4 separate regions of the Homo sapiens genome follow, and regions 1, 2 and 3 are each reported to be linked to region 4. Evidence: microRNA targets listed by miRTarBase, many of them from high-throughput screens and not tested one by one. Region 4 holds a microRNA gene; each other region holds the end of a gene's coding sequence.

The links. The annotated mature microRNA hsa-miR-1178-3p reads UUGCUCACUGUUCUUCCCUAG and lies in region 4 at 2,927-2,947, shown strand. An mRNA with a match to its seed (bases 2 to 7 or 8) in the 3' UTR can be bound and repressed. Matches are read on the target gene's strand: a 7mer-m8 pairs with bases 2 to 8, a 7mer-A1 pairs with bases 2 to 7 and ends in A, and an 8mer does both.
Region 1: miRTarBase lists CABP4 as a target of hsa-miR-1178-3p. Seed matches in the 3' UTR shown: 8mer at 418-425 and 7mer-A1 at 1,437-1,443.
Region 2: miRTarBase lists C9orf78 as a target of hsa-miR-1178-3p. Seed matches in the 3' UTR shown: 7mer-m8 at 2,059-2,065.
Region 3: miRTarBase lists TMEM169 as a target of hsa-miR-1178-3p. Seed matches in the 3' UTR shown: 7mer-A1 at 1,866-1,872.

Annotation. Positions count from the first base shown.
Region 1 is chr11:67,458,487-67,461,486 of GRCh38, forward strand. It overlaps CABP4 (calcium binding protein 4), which reads left to right. Exons shown (of 6, transcript NM_145200.5): 5 at 1-32; 6 at 145-3,000. The coding sequence ends at 173. Among named protein-coding and RNA genes, the nearest start is that of CABP4, 4.6 kb to the left of the region's middle. RefSeq lists enhancers at 1,436-1,485, 1,696-1,745.
Region 2 is chr9:129,825,547-129,828,546 of GRCh38, forward strand. It overlaps C9orf78 (chromosome 9 open reading frame 78), which reads right to left. Exons shown (of 9, transcript NM_016520.3): 9 at 1,744-2,706. The coding sequence ends at 2,615. Among named protein-coding and RNA genes, the nearest start is that of TOR1A, 2.9 kb to the left of the region's middle. RefSeq lists a silencer at 2,504-2,798.
Region 3 is chr2:216,100,232-216,103,231 of GRCh38, reverse strand. TMEM169 (transmembrane protein 169) reads right to left here. Exons shown (of 3, transcript NM_001142311.2): 3 at 449-3,000. The coding sequence ends at 2,690. Among named protein-coding and RNA genes, the nearest start is that of XRCC5, 7.6 kb to the left of the region's middle.
Region 4 is chr12:119,712,177-119,716,595 of GRCh38, reverse strand. It overlaps MIR1178 (microRNA 1178), which reads left to right and starts at 2,872; the gene lies at 2,872-2,962. It overlaps CIT (citron rho-interacting serine/threonine kinase), which reads left to right. Exons shown (of 48, transcript NM_001206999.2): 33 at 2,262-2,399; 34 at 2,948-3,128; 35 at 3,302-3,393; 36 at 3,901-4,005; 37 at 4,249-4,418.

The DNA.
Region 1 (3,000 bases), not on the chromosome of region 4:
CCTCAATGGGGATGGCACCGTAGACTTTGACGGTGAGTCTCCTTCCCGGAAAACCCTCCCGTGCTTCCAGGGCCTAGGCTGAGCCCAGCACCTCCTGGGATCCCTGACGTGGACTGACCCAAGCCCTGCCCTTCTCTCCCGCAGAGTTTGTGATGATGCTCTCCCGCCACTGAGGCTCCAGGAGGGAATATCTGTTGCCCCTGCGGCCCCAGACACCAGCCAGACCCAGGCTGCAGGCCTCCCCCAGGAGCCTCCAGGATGGAGATGGAGACCCAGCAGCCCCCAGACTACTTCTATCCCTGAAAACACCTGGCCTCAATGTTGGCTTGTTATGTTACCTGCCCACCCTCATCCTTACCTCCTCCTACTCAAGCTGCCTGGAGAAGACCTGCTCTCAGCTGCCCACCGTTCCTCAGTGTGAGCAAGATTTGGGTCTCTCCAGACCTCTGGGAGGTAGGGAGTTCCCTGGCACTGGCAGCATTCAGTGGGGACCCCCCAGTGGCATGATGAATGGAGAGGATGGCTGGACCCCTTCCACTACTTATGTTTATAATTTTTTTTTTTTTTAATGAACTTGAGCCGGGTGCAGTGGCTCACACCTGTAAGCCCAGCTGTCAGGGGGCAGAAGCGGGAGGATAGCTTGAGCCCAGGAGTGCAAGACCTGCCTGGGCAATATACTGAGACCCCATTCTCCACAAAAAGGAAAAATAAAAGACAAAAAAACAAACAAAAAACCAAAAAACCCAAGTGTAAAAAAAGTGAGCTTGAAAGAAAGAAAGGGATGGCTCCATGTATCAAAGACAAAGAAATCAAAGCTGGGGTTGTAAGAGGGAGCTGACGCTGTGGGGGTTTCAGATCTGGATGGAGGCTTGGCCGCCTGGACTCCTACAACCATGAGTGACAGAAGAACCATATGAGTCTGGGGAGCAAGAAACAAACCCCCCGGATATATTCCAGGGTCTCCAAAGGCTAAGATATTAATCTGTCTGCACTGACCAGTCATAGAAAGTGGCAAGGATACAGATGTTCAGGGCCCAGAGTGGAAACAGCTGCCCTAAAGAGCCTGGAACTCCAGGGCCTGCCCTTCAAGCAGGCGTGTAGTCTCTCTCCAGGGTGTGAAAAACTGGAAAAAAACCCTGCCGCTCCCAAAGGGGAACTTGTGATAAAAATTACAGATTATTGGGCTGGGAGTGGTGGCTCACGCCTGTAATCCCAGCACTTTGGGAGGCTGAGGCGGGTGAATTACCTGAGGTCAGGAGTTTGAGGCCAGCCTGACCAACATGGTGAAACCCCATCTCTACTAAAAATACAAAAATTAACTGGGCGAGGTAGCATGCACCTGTAATCTCAGCTACTCGGAGGTTGAGGCAGGAGAATCGCTTGAGCCCGGGAGGTGGAGCTGCAGTGAGCTGAGATCACACCATTGCACCCCAGCCTGAGCAACAGATCGAGACTCCGTCTCAAAAACAAAACAAAAAAACCATACTGATTATAAAAGTAAAGAAACCACCATGAAGGAGACGAGACAGAGACAAAAACAAGAGGACTGGCATCTCAGTGTACATAATACAGCCGCCTAAGAGACCACAAGATACATGCAAATAAAAGACGGCTAAAAGGGGAAGAGAGATCAACATGCAGTAACAGGATAGTATGAAGAGAGAACCGGAAGATTTAAAAAGTAACCCAACAGGCCAGGCGCATGGCTCATGCCTGGAATCCCAGCACTTTGGGAGGCCAAGGTGGGTGGGTTGCTTGAGCTCAGGAATTCGAGACCAGCCTGGGCAACATGGTGAAACCCTGTCTCTACTAAAAATACAAAAATTAGCCAGGCGTGGTGGTGCTTGCATCTGTGGTCCCAGGTATTCTACAGGCTGAGGTGGGAGGATCACTTGAGCCCAGGAGGCAGAGGTTGCAGTGAGTCGAGATCGCACCACTGCACTCCAGCGTGGGTAACAGAGTGAGAATCCGTCAAAAAGAAAAAAACAAACCATGGCTTCTGTTAAAAAAATAAAGTATATTTTATATATACACACACACACACACACACACACACAGCCATTGGAATGAAAAAATAATGGATAAGCTAAACAGCAGATTAAACACAATTTAAAGATTAATGAACTGGAAGCTATATCTAAGAAATCACTTATAATGTAACACTGAGAGACAAAAGGATGGAAAATATTACAGGGTAGTTAAAAGTCACTGGAAGGCTGGGTGTGGTGGCTCACGCCTGTAATCCCAGCACTTTGGGAGGCTGAGACGGGCGGGTCACAGGGTCAGGAGATCGAGACCATCCTGGCTAACACAGTGAAACCCCATCTCTACTAAAAATACAAAAAAAAATTAGCTGGGCGTGGTGGCGGGCGCCTGTAGTCCCAGCTACTAGGGAGGCTGAGGCAAGAGAATGGCGTGAACCCAGGAGGCGGAGCTTGCAGTGAGCCGAGATTGCACCACTGCACTCCAGCCTGGGCTACAGAGCGAGACTCCGTCTCGGAAAAAAAAAAAAAAAAAGGTCACTGGAAGACTGGGTGTGGTGGCTTATGCCTGTAATCCCAGCATTTTGGGAGGCTAAGGCAGGAGGATCACTTGAGGCCAGGAGTTTGAGACCAGCCTAACAGCAAGACCCTGCCTCTTAAAAAAAATAATAAAAAAATAAGCTGGGTGTAGTGGCTCATGCTTGTAGTTCCAGCTATTCAGGAGGCTGAGGTGAGAGGATCATTTGAGCCCAGGAGTTGGAGGCTGCAGTGATCGTGCCACTGCACTCCAGCCTTGGTGACAGAGCAAGAGACCCTGTCTCAAAGAAAAAGACAGATAAGTCCTTGGGAGTCTCAGACGGAGGACATACATAGAGAATGAACAAGAAGCAATAACCAAAGAGATAATGGCTGAAAATTTTCCATAAAGACTTCCACAGACTTCAACTCCCCAGATTGAAGGAACAAACTGAAGTCAGAGTAGGGTAAATAAAAATAAATATATATCTGGATATATCCC
Region 2 (3,000 bases), not on the chromosome of region 4:
TACAGAAATTATTTGGAATTCTGCATGGGAGATTTGTTTCTTCTCCCCCATGTATTCAATCATTTATATCAGTGTGGACCATTGTTATTTTATCCTTTGTTATACTACAGTACTAATTTTTTTTTCAAATTGTTCTCATTTTGGCCACTGGGAATTTGAGTGGTTCCTTGTGCTCCTTTGACATACACCCAGTGTATATACCAGCTTATTTGGGTTTGAGTGCCTCTTTCCTTTCTGACACTACAGGATACTCCGGGCTCATCTTGTATTTCCTGCCCCAGTCCTAGAATCCTATTTTCTACGAGGAACCCTGATTCCTTTCATTGTAAAATGGCATTAGAAACTGGCTGGGCATGGTGGCTCATGCCTGTAATCCAGCATTTTGGGAGGCTGAGGCAGGTGCATCACCTGAGGTCAGGAGTTTGGGACCAGCCTGACCAATATGGTGAAACCCCATCTCTACTGAAAATACAAAAAAATTAGCTAGGCATGGTTGCGTGTGCCTGTAGTCTCAGCTACATGGGAGGCTGAAACAGGAGAATTCCTTGAACTTGGGAGGTGGAGGTTGCAGTGAGCCGAGATCGCACCACTGCACTCCAGCCTGGGTGACAGAGCGAGACTTCGTATCAAAAAAAAAAAAAAAAAAAAAAAAGAGAAACCAAGGTCTGGGTGCTAGGTGTGCTTCTTGCTATTGAGATGTCATTTCTTTCAGTCTCAGCTGACAGAAAAAAATGTGTGTATATACTGTTAAACACACACATATCTATAAATATTTTTATAGGTAAACATCTGTACCTATATTAAGCTAAACATGAGCTCGTGCTGACATCTCCAACTCTAATCCATTACACAGATCATTGGAGCCTCCTCCCCTTGTTTATCTGTGAATTCCCACCCCAACAGTGAGAGAACCAGCTCCCTCCATCTGGCAGCCACTTTTAAGCTGGATAAAAGATTACTCATTTTCTAGCAAAGGGAACTCTGGCAAGTGAGAACTGTTGACCATCCACTTATTTGCCTGTTCATCCCATAAACACGTGTTGCGTTGCTGTGTGCCAGATGTGCTAGGCCTTTAGTATTCATCTTGGGTTACCCCTGCACATCGCTGGGACCTGTAAATGTTTGTTGAAATATCCTGAAAATATTTTTTAAGTTTCGACTTTTTCGTATTGGATTTAAAATACTTTTGTGCACCTGTTACAAGCCAAACACTATAGGGATCATTCATAGTTTTGAGGACTGCCTATCTGTCAGATTATGGGCTATGCCCTGGGGATTCAAATTTAAAAATTAGGCACACATGGTTCCTGCCTTCACTGACCATATTCAAGTGGAGGAAAAAAAAAAATCTCCATTTTACAGATGAGAAAACTGAGGCTAAGAGTGAAAAGGATCTGTCCAAGGACACAAGTAGTAAGCTGCGAGGTGGGCTCAGATCTGACTCCTGGGCCAAACCACTGTAACCACAATACCTGCTCTAAATCCACCCAGAAGTCAGCCAATCTGCTCTTTCCTCTTTTGGACCCCTGTGGATGCCTCAGGAAAAATGAGGGCACAGGTAAGAAGGTACTTGACAGCAGGTTGCAGCATGTCTATGCTGCAGTGGTCCAATCATAGCTCACTGTTTGAAATAAATGAGAAAATCCATCTCAGTAATTCAGTTTTACATTTAGGCTACCCAAACCATGGGCTTTAAAAACATTACCTGATGCTGGTATAAGAAACATAATACAAACAATAAGGTTGGATTCATTTTGAAATTTAATAATTCTAATAGTAATAAGAAACATAGTTTATGCTTTTTTTTTAATGAAAACAAACAAGTAATTTTGTAAAAGTCAGAAAACACCAGTATCCTTCTGATCTCATCCTGGATTTTTCTGTCAGCTGGAGGATGCATTTCTGACCCCATCCCAGACACGTGAAAGCAGAAGACATGATGCATCTATAATAATGAAAGCACAATCTAAAGAGTATTATCACACCGTGAACAGCTTCTTCCTGACCCAGAGCAAATATTAAGAGAAAGACAATATATTTACAAACAAGATTTAATAATGCTCACAAGAATAGAGTTTGCCCCCAAATGGAAAATTACACATTATTTTGTTTCAAAAAGTTATAAATTTAGTGCTTGAAAAATCCAGCAGGTAAGTAGAAGGACTAACAGGGTCTGTTTCTGGAACTGTCCGCCAGCAAATGAGCATGCTCTGTCCTGGAAGCCATTTTTCTTTTTCTTTTTTTTTTTTTTTTTTTTTTTTGAGACAGAGTTTTTTGCTCGTTGCCCAGGCTGGAGTACAAAGGTGCAATCTCGGCTCACCACAACCTCCGCCTCTTGGGTTCAAGCAATTCTCCTGCCTCAGCCTCCTGAGCAGCTGGGATTACAGGCATGTGCCACCACGCCTGGCTAACTTTTCTGTATTTTCAGTAGAGACTGGGTTTCTCCATGTTGGTCAGGCTGGTCTCAAACTCCCGACCTCAGGTGATCCGCCCACCTCGGCCTCCCAAAGTGCTGGGATTACAGGCAGGAGCCACCACGCCCGGCCAGGAAGCCATTTTTCATGGGAGGGATATAGGGAGAGGAAGGCGATATTTACATCCCACTCTGCACAACTCAGTACCGCCTATTCATTTTCTTGAACTTCTCATAATGATAGTCATCAGTTGCCTTCTCGTTAGCAGGACGCTTGCGGTTAGGAGGGGACCCTGAGAAGGAAAAGAACAGGAAAGGTGGTTTGCCATGCTGGAACCCACTGCTAGACTTTACTCCATGCAGGCAAAGACAACTGCCTGTTTCCTTCCCCACAGGAGCCCCAGCGCCTAACCCAGTGAACACAGTAGGGCCTCAGTAGATACGTATTTGTCTTTTTTTTTTTCTTTTCTTTTCTTTTTTTTGAGATGGAGTCTCACCCTGTTGCCCAGGCTAGAGTGTAATGGCATGATCTCAGCTCACTGCAACCTCCAACTCCCGAGTTCAAGTGATTCTCCTGCCTCAGCCTC
Region 3 (3,000 bases), not on the chromosome of region 4:
TAGTCTAGGCTTTTACATACCTCTATAGAACCCCTTTGAAATGGTTTTAATTTACAAGCCTATTTCTTCCACTAGATGATGAGCCCAACTAGGATGAAGGCCATGTCAACTTTATCTAGGTATCTCTTGGGTATGATCTCATCATCATCCCACACTCTTCCATGGCACCACAGCCACTTTACCTGTGTCCTAATCACAACTTTTTGGCTTTTCCCATTGGTTTCCCCAACCCCAGAAAAATGGGACAAATGTGGTTGCAAGTTTCTAGTGTGGTTTGTGAAAACAGTCCACCTAAATAGAATTCCCCAAAATTAGTGAAGCATGGAAAGAGTCCAGACACAAGGATTCATATTAAAATCATTACATACATATAGGACAGCCATCATGCTCACCCTTTTTCTGCAAACCATAGCATTCAAAGCAATTTTGAAGAGCCTCAAAGACAAAATGAGCAAAAGTTAATCAGACTTTATTTTTATTTTCTTTGTCTTCATTTAATTGTTCATATCTCTGCTAATGCACCATAGAGCACCAAGATTAACACTAAAACTGTTGGGCACTTTTTTTTTCTTGTCAAGCTAATAATAGTTATTTAAAAAAAAAAAAAAGAGAGAGTTCCTCTGAAGGTGGAGCTCAGCACCATACATCAGGCAAATGTCCTGGGCTCTCTGTGGGGAGCATGACAAACTCCTCTGGTTTGATTCATCGCAGCAGTTCTCTCAACAGCTTTGTTTTGAGACATGAACAAGAAAAGAGCACCAGCTATTCTTATAAGGACCCAAATCTCCAAATTCTGCTGACCTCTTAGGAGTTGATATTTTGAAATTAGAAGGACACCCTTAGGAGTGATTTTTTTTTTTAAGTTCAGAGTCTGTTAATCTGTATTAATCTAGTTTACACTCCCTACAGGCCAGGTAGACACAAGTTTCTCAGCACAGCAAAGATCATGTCTGTGGTTAAACTCAGAAAGGTCTGAGGGAGTAAAGCTCTGAGTGAGGTTTTGCCAAACAACAGAAGGCTAAATCTGGCTTCTTTGTACTTAGGGCTACTGATCGCTGTTGGAGGAAACTTTGGCAGATGCAATTCCTCCCTTCCTGGTCTTTAATCTAGGTTAAATATCACCACCTCGTCCCACCTCCACCACCAGGACAAAGAGTTATGCTACTATTATAAATTGTACTCTCCTGTCCACTATTCCTTTCCAAAAACAAATCACATGACATTACAGAAGCTTAATTGCAAAGTACGTGAGGTGCTAATATCGATGTATAGCATATTCAAAGTATATGTAGCTAATATCTATATATAAATTCTCTGTGTAAGATTCAGGCCTAAATAAATAAATGAATAAACAAATGAATGAATAAATAAATAAATAAAACCATATTAGCAGTTTGGGGGTTCTGAATGTATTTAAATGATCATTGTGAGGCAAAGATTCTGACTTGCCTACCAAGATAACCATTCTTGCCTACAATCCCAGCATTTTGGGAGGCCGAGGCAGGCGGATCACCTGAGGTCAGGAGTTCAAGACCAGCCTGGGCACATGGTGAAACCCCATCTCTACTAAAAAAAAAATACAAAAATTAGCCGGGTATGGTGGCACGCACCTGTAATCCCAGCTACTGGGGAGGCCAAGGCACAAGAATTGCTTGAACCCAGGAGGCGAAGGTTGCAGTGAGCCGAGATAGTGCCACTGCACTCCAGCCTCGGCAACAGAGTGAGACTCCGTCTCTAAAGCGAAACAAAACAAAACAAAACAAAACCCAAATAACCATTCTTCCTTTTTCTTGCCAATTAGCGTGAACCCAGTATTTAGCTGAGAATATAGCTACCCAGCCAAACAACTACATTTCCAGCCTCTTTTGCTCATGACATCATGTGACTGAGGTCTTGCCAATGAGATATAAGAAGAATCGAGTGGGACTTCTGGGAAGTCTCCTTGAACAGGAAGGGTGTGTGCTTCTCTGCCCTTTCCTCTATTTTATCAGAAACATGGATGTGATGGCTGAAGATGTAATCAGCACTGGGATGTTGGGGATAAGGGTGAGAAGGGTCACATCCTACTAATGGTAGAGAAATAGAAGAAGCCTGGGACCTGGATTACTTCACAGGGTCCCAGGATGGTCTGCCTCCAGACTTCTTCTGCACAAGAAAGAAATACACTTCTATCTTGTTTAAGCCACTGATATTTTAGGGTTTTAATTCTATGCAGCTAAATCTAAATCTAAATGATACACACAAATCTTTACCTTCTGCTACACTGTGGTAGTCCAGCTTCCTAAATGTCTCACTCCATCCCTGTCTATTATCTTGGTGGATTTGGTTACCCCGAGGTTCTTTATTCTCCCTGACACATTTAGTCACATACTCCCCTCAGTTCCAGGCACCAGTAACACTTCCAGGCTCCCAAAACGACACACAGCAGAGTTCCATTGTCCTAAATAAATGGTGATTTTAGGGCAGGGAATCAAAAAGAGTTTGTCCATTGGGTGAACTGCTTTGGCACAATTGCTTGTCTGCTCCATGCCCTCCTGGAACCCTCAAGATGGTAAAACTGATCAGTATGGACTCTGATTTCCCAGAAGAACTGCGGAGAGTAGGGGGTAATTTAAAGAAATAATCTGCTGGAATTTTAAGATGATATATAGGCTACTGGGGCCAGAGGAGGGAGTAAGTTGTTGGGAGTTTAGACCGTGGAGGTTTCTACTTCTTGGATGGGGTCCTTGTTGGAGAGAGTGCTTGAGATATTGTCGGATTCAAGCAACTCCACAATGCTGTAGGGAGAACAGTCCTCCAGACCCAGCTTGCTGCAGAGCCAGCCACAGAAGCCTTTCTCCATGTCCCGGGCAGCTTGCCACCATGCTTCCCAGGACCACGAGAGCTGGACCACAGCAGCGTAGAGGCCGAGGGAAGAAGCCATGGCCATGATGAGCACTGGATAGAAGAGAACGAGGCAAGGGCAATACGAGATCTTGTGCCAGAAGGTCCTTTCCTCAT
Region 4 (4,419 bases):
GCTGTTTGGAATGTCTTAGGAACACTAGGGTAGAGCTGTGGTTTAGCAATCATGGCATTGCAATCAAACCTGTTTTGGTTGTAAACCAGATGGTGTTTTCTTGTTGCTGTTGTTTTTCTTTAGCCTGAAGTCATTTTCTTCCTCCTGTGTTTATATAACTCCTTGAATCAAAGAGCTTTACTTTTTTTTTTTTTTTTTTTTTTTTTTTTTTTTTTTTGAGACAGAGTCTCGCTCTGTCGCCCAGGCTTGGAGAGCAGTGGTGTGATCTTGGCTCACTGCAACCTCTGCCTCCCAGGCTCAAGCGATTCTCATGCCTCAGCTTCCTGAGTAGCTGGGATTATAGGCATGCGCCACCATGCCTGGCTAATATTTTTATTTTTAGTAGAGATAGGGTTTCACCATGTTGGCCAGGCTGGTCTTGAACTCCTGACCTCAAGCGATCCACTTGCCTTGGCCTCCCAGAGTGCTGGCATTACAGGTTTGAGCCACTGTGCCCAGCCCAAGAGCTTTACTTTTAAACTCATTAAAATGGTGATGACAAGATAGAGGAAAGCATTGCTTCTGGCTGTGGTGTCCACTGAAATGTCCCTGAATAGTGATAGTACTACAGTATATTGCTCCTTTGTGTATACTGCACCACACAGTTTCAAAGTGCATTCCTGTTATTTATTCCTTGCACCTTTCCAAGAAAGGAAGGGGGGTGATGTTGTAAGGAGAGCCTACCGTATAGTCAGTCAATCTCCTACCAGTAACATGTTCTTAAAGCCTGATTCCTAATCACTGGATAATGGAGATTTTAAGTTGAGTCTTATAAATCTAGATGCATCTGTTAGTGTTAATACTTTCAAAATCTGTAACTAACCTGTTCTAATGGTTTTAACAGTTTCATTCAGATGTAATTTGCATACCGTACAGTTCGCTCATTAAAAATGTACAATTCAGTCTTTTTCAGTAAGTTTACAGGGTTGTGTAACCCTCATCACATTCTAATTTTTGAACAATTTTGACACCCCCCCACCCAAAAAATACTCCATACACATTATCAGTCCCCCGCCATTCTCCTTCCACTAATGTTCTTCTTAGCAACCACCAATCTACTTTCTGTCTCTGTCGATCTGCTCTCTTAGACATTTCATAAAGATGAATCATACTGCATGCGGCCTTTGTGTCTGGCTTCTTTCATGGAATGTAATGTTTTCAAGGTTCACCCATGTTGTAGCATGTATCAGAACTTCATTCCTTTCATGGCTGAATAATACTCCATTGTGTAGATGGCACATCTGATTATCCATTAATCCATTTTCATTAGTCCATTTTCACACTGCTGATAAAGACATGCCCAAGACTGGGTAATTTATAAAGAAAAAGAGGTGTAATAGACTCACAGTTCCATGTGGCTGGGGAGGCCTCACAATCATGGTGGAAGGCAAAAGGCATGTCTCATGTGGCGGTGACAAAAGAGAATAAGAACCAAGCGAGAGGGGTTTCCCCTTATAAAACTATCAGATCTTATTCACTACCACAAGAACAGTATGGGGGAAACCACCCGCATGATTCAGTTATCTCCCACCAAGTCCCTCCCAACACATGGGAATTATGGCAGCTGCAATTCAAGATGAGATTTGGGTGGGGACACAGCCAAACCATATCACCATTGGTGGACATTTGTGTTGTTTTCACTTTGTAGTTGTCATAAATTATGCTGCTGTGAACATTTATGTACAGATTTTTGTGGGTACATATGTTTTCAGTCCCCTTGGATATATAGCCAGGAGCGGAATTGCTGGGTTCTGGGGTAACTATGTTTAACCTTTTACAGAACTACCAGACTGAGTTCCAAAGTGGCTGCACCATTTTTACATTCTCACCAGGAATGTGTGAGGGTTCCAGTTTCTCCACATCCTCATCAACACTTATCTTCCTTTTTTTAGACTGTAGACATCCTAGTGGTTGTGAAGTGGTGTCTGCTTGGGGTTTTGATTCACATCTCTCTAACGACTGATAATGTTGAGCATCTTTTCATTTGCTCGTTGGCCATTTATCCTCTTCGGGGAGGTGTCTATTTAAATTCTTGGCCCATTTTAAAATTGGGTTGTCCTTTTATTATTGAGTTGTAAGAGTTCTTTATGTATTCTAGATATGAGTCCCTTATCAGAGATTTGATTTGCAAGTATTTTTTCCCTTTCTGTGGGTTGTCTTTTCACTTTCCTGATGGGATCATTTGCAGTACTCTAATGATTTTTTAAAACATTTTCCTCCAGAATTTAGTCGGCGTCTTAAGGAACGCATGCACCACAATATTCCTCACCGATTCAACGTAGGACTGAACATGCGAGCCACAAAGTGTGCTGTGTGTCTGGATACCGTGCACTTTGGACGCCAGGCATCCAAATGTCTCGGTAAGATCAGTAGTTGTGCATCTGTGCTGGGCACCTGTGCATCTCCAGCTTAAAAAGTCTATCAGGTGGAGGTGATTTTTTTCTAACTCATCATATAGTGCATTCATTTTCGAGCTTCTTACTTCAGTAGGAGGATGCTATTTTTCCCCTGTTGAAGCTGTGAGTTTATATATGTCTGCAGCTCATGACTCCAGCCTGCTGCTCAGAGTGCCTTAGGCTTTGCTAATTTCCAGCCCCTTTTTGTCAGGCTGGTCTCTCCCTACCTTTCCGCTGACTCCAACTGAAACATGCAAACGTGTTCTTTACACACCTGTTTGTGGGCGGTCTGGATTGAAGCCTGGAAAACTGGGTCAAGAGCACTTGGCACTTTTGTTTTCCCTTTCTGCAGGGGCCTGGCACCAGGGGAAGCTCAGGAGACTACCTGCAAGCCAGGGCCAGACTCTCTGGGCCCGGCTGGGGTAGAGAAGCCCAGGCGTTGGCTGGCAGAGGAAGGGAAGGGTCCAGGGTCAGCTGAGCATGCCCTCAGGTTGCTCACTGTTCTTCCCTAGAATGTCAGGTGATGTGTCACCCCAAGTGCTCCACGTGCTTGCCAGCCACCTGCGGCTTGCCTGCTGAATATGCCACACACTTCACCGAGGCCTTCTGCCGTGACAAAATGAACTCCCCAGGTCTCCAGACCAAGGAGCCCAGCAGCAGCTTGCACCTGGAAGGGTGGATGAAGGTGCCCAGGTACCATGTCAGGGTGGCTTGGGCTGGAGCAGGTGCTGGCACAAGCCACTCTGTCCCTGATGTTTTCTAGGGAAGTGTCTTTTCTAGGAACTCTGCCACCCCCTCATCCTATCCTCCAGCCGGATGTTTCTTCTGAGTTCAGACATTTTTCTTTTCCATCTTTCTTTCCCCAGGAATAACAAACGAGGACAGCAAGGCTGGGACAGGAAGTACATTGTCCTGGAGGGATCAAAAGTCCTCATTTATGACAATGAAGCCAGAGAAGGTAAATTAATAATTCAGGGGGAAGGTCATTGCACGTGGCTAACCCAGGTCTCCCCAGTGCTGGCGCGAAGGCTTTGTTTTTTGGACTGCCTTGCAAGCCTTCTACGCTTTTCCATTTTTGAAACTTACAAACCAAATGACTTCTCTAAAGGTTATTGGTGCGATACTCACATCTATAGGTCTCCCCCCTGAAGAACCCGCAGGGCGCTGCCCTGAAGATTCCACCTGCTAATACACCTTCCGAGAACTTCTGCCTCAGTCAACTAACCCATAAATCCGCATCGTCATCAGAAATTTGACTGTGCTACTCATCTGACACACTTTATTTTTTTTTATCTTCCCTCTCTGCCTTCTCTGCACACCTCTGTCCCTTCCTTGTTCTCGTGCGCCTCTCTTTACACACGTACCCTGTCTCTCTCTCCCTTGCTGTCTCTCTCGCTCTCTCTTCTCCCCTTGTTCTTGTTCCTGTTCTTTTGTTTTTCTTTCTGCCCTTCCTCTTTGCACCAAGCTGGACAGAGGCCGGTGGAAGAATTTGAGCTGTGCCTTCCCGACGGGGATGTATCTATTCATGGTGCCGTTGGTGCTTCCGAACTCGCAAATACAGCCAAAGCAGGTGAGGAGGAGCCGGAGGAGCCCCGCCCTGGAGGTGGGCCGGGCTTGGCCAATCAGCAGGGACAGAAGGGGTGGTACAGGGAAGATTGGCTCTGCAAAGGAGGCCCATCTTCCTCCGCTCCCCGCCTTGGCGGTAACTGGGATTTGCGTGGTTTGGTGGGCATCTTTGATCTCTCAGGCCCGTCCCTCCCAGTGGGAACGGGGGAAATCCACACCCAATCCTGTGCTCTCTGAAATCTCCTAGATGTCCCATACATACTGAAGATGGAATCTCACCCGCACACCACCTGCTGGCCCGGGAGAACCCTCTACTTGCTAGCTCCCAGCTTCCCTGACAAACAGCGCTGGGTCACCGCCTTAGAATCAGTTGTCGCAGGTGGGAGAGTTTCTAGGGAAAAAGCAGAAGCTGATGCTG